Regions from separate parts of the Homo sapiens genome. Here all the other regions are linked to region 3. The links come from fine-mapping of genetic effects on gene expression. A gene starts in region 3. Each other region holds a variant in brackets. All regions are shown on one strand. Distances are from middle to middle. Region 1 overlaps MARK4 (microtubule affinity regulating kinase 4). Region 2 overlaps CKM (creatine kinase, M-type). Region 3 holds the start of MARK4 (microtubule affinity regulating kinase 4).

Region 1 (2,756 bases), 33 kb before region 3:
AACTTGAGAGGGTCAGAAGGTCTGCTTGTTACATCCTCAGGAGCGATACATGCTCAGAAGTCCCAGAACCACAAGCTGAGAGCTCTACAATGACAATGACAGATACCTGGCACCTGCCAGCAATCCCTCTCTGAGAATCCCTGGAACTCAGGTCTCAGTGTGGGGAGTTCTGAAGGTTACCACGTTCTAACCATATGATACCAAAGTCACAAGCTCCTTAGGAACTTTCTGGGCACGCCCTGTCATTTTACAGGTGGGAAAGACAAGACGCAGGGGCAGGGAATGGTTTGACCTCCAGCAATGGTGGGGGTAGGGCAGAAGCACCACTTCCCGTGTGGGGCTCATGCTGGGTCTCAGATTCCCTGACACCTCTCTCCTCCCTCACTTCAGTGTGGAGGGGAGGTCAGAGCGCAGGCTTTCAGCAGCCACTTTGTGCAATGTGTCCTCCTGTGCCCCCATTACAGCAGATTAATCCCAACTGGACTCGATATCAGAGCTCCATCCTGATCCTGATGAGTGGACCAAGGAGATTCTAGCTAACACTTGGGCTGGATTCTTTTTTTTTTTTTTTTTTTTTTTTGAGACACGGCAGTCTGGCTCTATCGCCCAGGCTGGAGTGCAGTGGCACGATCTGGACTCATTGCAACCTCGGCCTCCCAGGCTCAAACCATCCTCCCACCTCAGCCTCTCAAGTAGCTGGGATTACAGGTGCACACCACCATGCCCAGCTAATTGTTTTGTTTTGTTTTTGAGACAGAGTCTTGCTGTTGCCGCCCAGGCTGAAGTGCAATGGCACAATCTCGGCTCACTGCAACCTCTGCCTCCCGGGTTCCAGCAATTCTCCTGCCTCAGCCTCCCAAGTAGCTGAGATTACAGGTGCTCACCACCACACCCGGCTAATTTTGATATTTTTAGTAGAGACAGGGTTTCACCATGTTGGCCAGGCTGCTCTCAAACTGCTGACCTCAGGTGATCCACCCAGCTCGGCCTCCCAAAGTGCTGGGATTACAAGGCAAGAGCCACTGCGCCCAGCCTAATTTTTGTATTTTTCTGTAGAGATGAGGTTTCATCATGTTGCCCAGGCTGGTGTCGAACTTGAGAGCTCAAGTGATCCACCCAATTCAGCCTCCCAAAGTGCTGGGATTACAGGCGTAAGCCACTGCACTCAGCCCTGGGCTGGATTCTAAAACTGAGATGTAAGAAATCTAGGAGCGGGCCAGGCGCGGTGGCTCATGCCTGTAATCCCAGCACTTTGGGAAGCCAAAGCCAAAGCAGGTGGATCATGAGGTCAGGCGATCAAGACCATCCTGGCTAACACAGTGAAACCCCATCTCTACTAAAAATACAAAAAATTAGCTGGGCGTGGTGGTGGACACCTATAGTCCCAGCTACTCGGGAGGCTGAGGCAGGAGAATGGCATGAACCCGGGAGGTGGAGCTTGCAGTGAGCCAAGATTGCGCCACTGCACTCCAGCTTGGGCAACGGAGCGAGACTTTGCCTCCAAAAAAAAAAAAAAGAAAAGAAATCTAGGAG[T/C]GGCTGGGCACAGTGGCTCACGCCTGCAATCCCAGCACTTTGGGAGGCCGAGGCGGGTGGATCACCTCAGGTCAGGAATTCAAGACCAGCCAGGCCAACACGGTGAAACCCTGTCTCTACTAAAAATACAAAATTAGCTGGGCAAGGTGGCTTGTAATTCCAGCTCGGGGGCCTGAGGCAGGAGAATCAGTTGAACCTGGGAGACTGAGGTTTCAGTGAGCCACCATCGCACCACTGTACTCCAGCCTGGGCGACAGAGTGAGACTCTGTCTCAAAAAAAGAAAAAAAAGAAGAAATCTAGGAGCTGAGAGATCTAGAAAAAGATAAGGTGAGATATGTAAGACAGAGAAAAAAAAGATTAGACAAGCAGACAGCCTAGTACCTGTCCCAGAGTAAGAACTTCACCCCTGCAGACAAGCAGGGCTGTAAAACGAACAGAGTTGGAAAACACCCTGAAAGTTCCTCAAACTATTATTAAACACACAGTTACCAGATGACTCAGCAATTCCACTCCCAGATACGTACCCAAGAGAAATGACGGCAAAACACAGCCACACAAAAACACGGATACAAATGTTCACAGCAGCATCATTCACAACAGCCAAAAAGTGGAGGCAATCCACGTGTTCATGAATGGATAAACAAAATGTGGTCTATCTATGCAATGGAATATTACTTGCCAATGAAAAGGAATGAAGTGCTGATACCCATATCATGGATGAACCTTGAAAACTTTCTGCTAAATGAAAGAAGCCAGTCACTGAAGGCCACACATCGTGTAATTCCATTTACCTGAAATGTCTAGAATAGCCAAATTCATCGACATAGAAAGTAGATTAGTAGCTGAGGGTGGAAGGGGGATTGGAAGTTGATTTTTTTTTTTTTTTTTTTTTTTTTTTGAGAGGAAGTCTCACTCTTATCGCCCAGGCTAGAGTGTAGTGGCGCGATCTCAGCTTACTGCAACCTCCGCCTCCCAGGTTCAAGCAATTCTCCTGCCTCAGACTCCTGAGTAGCTGGGATTACAGACGCCTGCCACTACGCCCGGCTAATTTTTGTATTTTATAGTGGAGATGGGGTTTCGCCATGTTGCCCAGTGGTCTCGAACTCCTGCGCTCAGGTGATCTGCCTGCCTCAGTCTCCCAAAGTGCTAGGATTACGGGCATGAGCCACCATGCCCTGCCTGGAAGTTGATTGCTAAAAGTTGTGAATTTTCTTTTTGGGGT
Region 2 (2,756 bases), 62 kb before region 3:
TTTATCCTATACTGTAGTCTGTTAAGTGCACAATAGCATTATGTCTAGAAAAAAAAAAGTACATACCTTAATTTTAAAATCCTGCTAAAAATGTTGTGATCATTTGAGGACTCAGCAAGTTGGAACCTTTCTGTTGTGTAGGGCCTTGCCTTGATGTTGATGGGCTGCTGACTGATCAGGGCGGTTGTCGTTCAAGGTTGAGATGGCTGCGGCAATTCCTTCCTTCCTTCCTTCCTTCCTTTCCTTTCTTTTCTTCCTCCCTTCCTTCCCTTCCTTCCCTCCCTCCCTTCCTTCCCTTCCCTTCCCTTTTCTTCTCCGTCCTTCCTTCCTTCCTTCTTTCCTCCCTCCCTTCCTCCCTTCCTTCCTTCCTTCTCTTTCTCTCTCTCTTTTCAAGACAGGGTCTTGTTCTGTTGCCCAGCTGGAATGCAGTGGTGCAATCATGACTTACCATAACCTCCAACTCCTGGGCTTAAGTGATCCTCCCATGTTGGTCTCCCAAAGTGCTGGCATTACAGGTGTGAGCCACAGTGCCTGGCCAGCAGTAATAGTTTGAAAAGAATCTCTTTTTTGAGATGGAGCCACACTCTTGTCGCCCAGGCTGGAGTGCAGTGGTGCAATCTTGGCTTACTGTTACCTCCACCTCGTGGTTCAAGCAATTCTCGTGTCTCAGCCACCCAAGTAGCTGAGATCACCGGCATGCGCCACCACGCCTGGCTAATTTTTGTATTTTTAGTAGAATCGGGGTTTCGCCATCTTGGCCAGGCTGGTCTCAAACTCCTGATCTCAGGTGATCTGCCTGCCTCAGCCTCCCAAACCACTAGGATTACAGGCGTGAGCCACCGCACCTGGCCTATGAAGCTTTTTATTTAAAGTGAAAAATGTTGACTCTTCCTTTCACTTGAACACCTCGAGGCCATTGTAAGGTTATGAACTGAATTGGCCTGATTTCAAAATCATGTGTCTCAGGGAATACGGAGGCTCAAGGAGATGGGGAGAGATGAGGGAATGGCTGGTCAGTGGGGCAGTCCGAGCACACACATTTATCCATTAAGTTCACCCTTTTATATGGGCAAGGTCGGTGGCACCCCCCAAAATTAAAACAGTAACATCAGAGATCACTGATCAC[G/A]GATCGCCATGACAGATATAGTAATAATGAGAAAGTCTGCAGTACTGTGAGAATTACCCACATGTGACACAGAGACACGAAGTGGCACATGCTGTAGGAAAAATGGCTCCAATAGACCTGCTGGACAAAGAGTTGCCACAAACCTCCAATTTGTAAAAAACACAGTATCTGCAAAATGCAATAAAACGAGGTATGTCTGTATATTATATGAATATGTATAAGATATATAAATATTATAGATTTATTGTACATATGCACAAACACAAATTCATTATACACATATTTTATACATGAATATACAAATAAACACACAATTTTTTTTCTTTTTTTTTTTTTTAGACAGAATCTCACTCTGTCACCCAGGCTGGAGTGCAGTGGCAAAATCTCAGCTCACTGCAACCTCCACCTCTTGGGTTCAAGTGTTTCTCGTGCCTCAGCCTCTTGAGTAGCTGGGATTACAGGCGTGTGCCACCATGGCCGACTAATTTTTGTATTTTTAGTGGAGACGGGGTTTCACCATGTTGGCCAGGCTGGTCTCAAAATCCTGACCTCAAGTGATCTGCCTGCCTTGGCCTCCCAAAGTGCTGGGATTATAGGCATGAGCCACTGCGCCCAGCCTACAATTTTTTTTTTTTTAAAGATTGGGGTCTTGGGCCAGGCGCCCAAGTGGAGAAACCCCGTCTCTACTAAAAATACAAAATTAGCCGGGCATGGTGGCGCATGCCTGTAATCCCAGGTACTTGAGAGGCTGAGGCAAGAGATTCGCTTGAACCCGGGAGACGGAGGTGGCAGTGAGCCAAGATCGCGCCATTGCGCTCCAGCCTGGGCAACAAGAGCAAAACTCCGTCTCATAAAAAAAAAAAAAAAAGATGGGGGTCTTGCTATGTTACCCAGACTGGACTCGAACTCCTGGGCTTAAGTGATCCTCCTGCCTCAGCCTCCCCAGTATCTGGACTACAGGCTCGTGCCAGTGCACCTGGCTACCATTCTACTTTATAATAATTTTTACTAATGGCCTCTCAAAGTCCTGAGACTTCAGCCATCTGTGTTGCCAGCCATTAGGAGCAGGCACCAGCACACTGTGGCCTGCAGGTGGATTGGATGTGAGGGTCCCTCAGGGGAAGAGGTGGGTCTGTTTTCCAGATTGAGCACATGGGGTGGCCATTCCTGGGGGCCTGGACAGATGGCAGGAACAGATTTTGGGGAGCCGTCACAAGTGTGGGTTTAGACACAGGGTTCAGGTGCCTTTAGGACATCCAGGGGGCCAAGGCCCAGGCCCGTTAGGAGCAGCAGCAGGGGAAACCCTGGGCCTCCACACCCTGGTTGAGGTGGGACAGGCTGCTGACCACTCCCTCGTGTGTCCCCATAGCTCTCAACAGCCTGACGGGCGAGTTCAAAGGGAAGTACTACCCTCTGAAGAGCATGACGGAGAAGGAGCAGCAGCAGCTCATCGATGACCACTTCCTGTTCGACAAGCCCGTGTCCCCGCTGCTGCTGGCCTCAGGCATGGCCCGCGACTGGCCCGACGCCCGTGGCATCTGGTGAGGCCCCTCCCCGCCCCCTGGCTTCCTCTTCCCCCAGCCTCCTCCAGTCCTGCAACGGCCCTCCTCACTCCTCCACCAAAACCAAG
Region 3 (2,756 bases):
CAGCCTGGGTGAGGTGAGGGCCTAGAAGTTGGAGGCCAAGGCTTCCTGGGAGAGGAAGAGACCAGAAAGGGTCCAGGTGGCATCTGGGGGCCCCGGGGTGCTGGGATCTAGGGACAGGGCTGCTTGGAAGATGGGGACCAGGCCTGGGACGGGAGAGACCTTGAAGAAGCCAGAAAAGGGCCGGGGCCCAGGAGAGGTGGAAACCAGCTTCCTGCCAGGGGCTGCCCACAGGCGCCCTGGGTGCGTCCTGGAGGGGCAGAGGGCTGGGAATAAGAGGAGGGGGGCTCCTGGGGAGCCGGCACCCAGCCCCAGACAGGGAAGGCCGGAGCCAGAGGCAGGACTGGGCCAGGCCCTGCTGAGAGTGCCAGGGCCGGGCCTTGGGGGGTCAGGGGCCCTGCAAATCCGGGAGGGGGCGAGGTGTCGGACGCGGACGGCCTGGAGGGGAAACGGCTTAGCACAGGCAAGAGAAGGGAGGGGCTCCTGGAAGCAGGGGAAGGGGCTTCCTGGAGGGAACAGACCCGAGCGGAAGCGGTCTGCACGGGGACAAGAGAGGGGTCCCGAGAGAGGGGCGCCCCCAGGGGTCGGGCTGGGCTGGAAAAGGTGGGGAGGGTGGAGAGGCCTGGAAGTCCGGGAGGGGTCGAGAGGTGACGAGCCGGGTCGGGCCCAGGAAACGAGGGTAGGGGCTCGCGGGGCGAGGGGTACAACGGGGAGAAGGGTTTGGCGGCTGGACCCAGCCAGGGCTCCCCAAGGGGCCGGGCCCCACTCACCGTGTCCGAGTTCCGATCGTTGCCCGGGGCCAGCACCGTCCGCGAAGACATCTTCTCCGGGTCCCGGGGGGCAGGGGCGGCCGGGTGGGGGGGGCGGGGGTCCCAGGGTCCCCTCTCTTCCCCTCCCCCCCCGCCGGCCTGGGGACGCGAGCTCAAAAGCTGGGCGCCGAGAACGCCCGGGTCCGCGCGGCGGGAGAGGGGGCAGGGCGGGGGAGGGGAAGGGACGCCGAGGGTCCTAGTGGCCCCGTGCAGCGGGGACCCCGGGCGCCATGGGGGCGGCGGGCAGGCGGGCGGGCGGGGGCCGCGGAGGGGGCGCGGAGCCGGCCCAAGCGGCGGCGGAGGGAGGCGGTGGAGGGGCTGGGGAGGGAGGAAGGGACGTCAGGGGGAGGGGCGGGCAGGGCGGGGCGCCGGGACCCCGCCCCCCGCCGCCGGCCCTTAAAGGCGCAGGCCCGGGCTGGTCGGGGCGCCGGGGGCTCCGGGGGCTCCGGGGGCGGAGGCGGGTCTGGGCACGCCGGCGGGGAGCGTGTTCTCGCCCGAGACGAGAGGCGCACTGGAGAGGAGAGAAGGGGAGAGAGAGGCCGGGGCAGAGCGCCAGAGACGCAGAGAGAGAGATCGAGAGACGTAGAGATAGAGAGACACGAAGAGAGAGAGACGAGTTACAAAAGGGTGGAGAGGCGCAAGGAGATGAAGGAAGAGCCAGATGACAGAGAGAGAGAGACGCAGGGAGACAGAGACAGAGAGACCCAGAGACGCAGAGGGACAAAGACTGAGAGAGACCCCACACACACACAGGGAGAGACAAAGAGATACAGAGACGCAGAGATCTGTGAAGAGATAGAGATAAAGGGACTGAGCCAGAGAAGACCCCAGAGGCGCTGCCCACATTGTCCCTCCCCCTGGCCCATTCTCTCCCCAGTTGGCGGGGGGGAGCGGGGGAAGCTCTCCCCTCGGAGGCCTAAGGGTGGGGTGGGTGAAGGGGATGGTGTGCGGGGCTTGGCCACTGCTGAGGGCTCAGTGACCTCCCTAGTCAGGCTGCCTCCACTCAGCCACATAGATCCAGACCCGCAGGTTGGGGCTGCAGCATCCACTCCTTTGCACCCCAGCTGGGGTGTGGGGACCCTCTCTGTCCACCTGTATGACCCGGGGCAAGCACTTGCCCTTTCTGGGCTTCACTTTCCCAGTTTGTAAAGTGAAAGGAAGAATCCGTGTGTTGCTCACTGGCAGGTGCGAAGGAACCCTGTGCAGGTATTCGCCTGCAGGGCACAGCCACTCCCCATGCGGGCAGGCTGAGACCAGAGAGGACAAGAGCCTCTCGGAGGCCACACAGCGCTGTGGGGACCATCCATGCTCTGTGGACCAGGGTGGGATGAAAGAAAGACAGGCATTACATAGTCTTGGCCTGGGAGTCACATGGTTTTGGGAAGGGGTCTGTGCCCTGCCTTCTTCTATCTGAGGCTTATTTTCCTGAGCCTCAGTTTCCCCTTCTAAAACAGCAGTGTGCTGGATCTGGCTGGAGCGAGCTGATTGTTATGTCTCAGGAATTTTGGAACTGGTTGTTAAACACAGCCATTATTAAAAATTAAATTATGCAAACATACAATTAAATTACATTAAAGGTACAAGTAATACATACTCATCACGTCCTAGTTATCTTACTACATTTGCCATTATCTGTGATCTTGAGGTTACCTACGTCTATTGTAGCTGCACAGTAAAATTACTATATAATGGGGGGCAAAAATGCCATGTGATATCACCTTGGTAGCTTGAAATTAGCCATGGTGGGAATATTTACACCATGGAAATTGGCAAATGCTACAAATTAAGGCTCCACACCCCCACCTGCAGAGAGCTGGGGGTGTTTTGTTTTGCTTTGCTTTGTTTTGTTTTTGAGACAGGGTCTCACTGCATTACCCAGGCTAGAGTGCAGTGGCACGATTATGGCTCACCGCAGCCTGGACATCCCCGGCTCAAGCAATCCTCCCAGCT

The links. PIP is the estimated chance that this variant, and not a neighbour inherited with it, causes the effect. A credible set is the group of variants that fine-mapping cannot tell apart.
Region 1: its variant is the best candidate, but not a certain one, in a credible set for the expression of MARK4 in blood mononuclear cells (TOPMed, PIP 0.66).
Region 2: its variant is the best candidate, but not a certain one, in a credible set for the expression of MARK4 in whole blood (INTERVAL, PIP 0.54).

What each region holds. Positions count from the first base shown.
Region 1 is chr19:45,283,086-45,285,841 of GRCh38, reverse strand. The region is part of intron 12 of MARK4 (microtubule affinity regulating kinase 4); the gene reads right to left. Among named protein-coding and RNA genes, the nearest start is that of MARK4, 33 kb to the right of the region's middle. The variant T/C (reference allele first, on the strand shown) is at 1,534.
Region 2 is chr19:45,311,660-45,314,415 of GRCh38, reverse strand. CKM (creatine kinase, M-type) reads left to right here. Exons shown (of 8, transcript NM_001824.5): 5 at 2,496-2,667. Among named protein-coding and RNA genes, the nearest start is that of CKM, 9.8 kb to the left of the region's middle. The variant G/A (reference allele first, on the strand shown) is at 1,127.
Region 3 is chr19:45,249,651-45,252,406 of GRCh38, reverse strand. MARK4 (microtubule affinity regulating kinase 4) reads right to left here and starts at 1,136. Exons shown (of 17, transcript NM_001199867.2): 1 at 768-1,136. The coding sequence starts at 818. RefSeq lists an enhancer at 1-228 and silencers at 702-851, 1,082-1,461.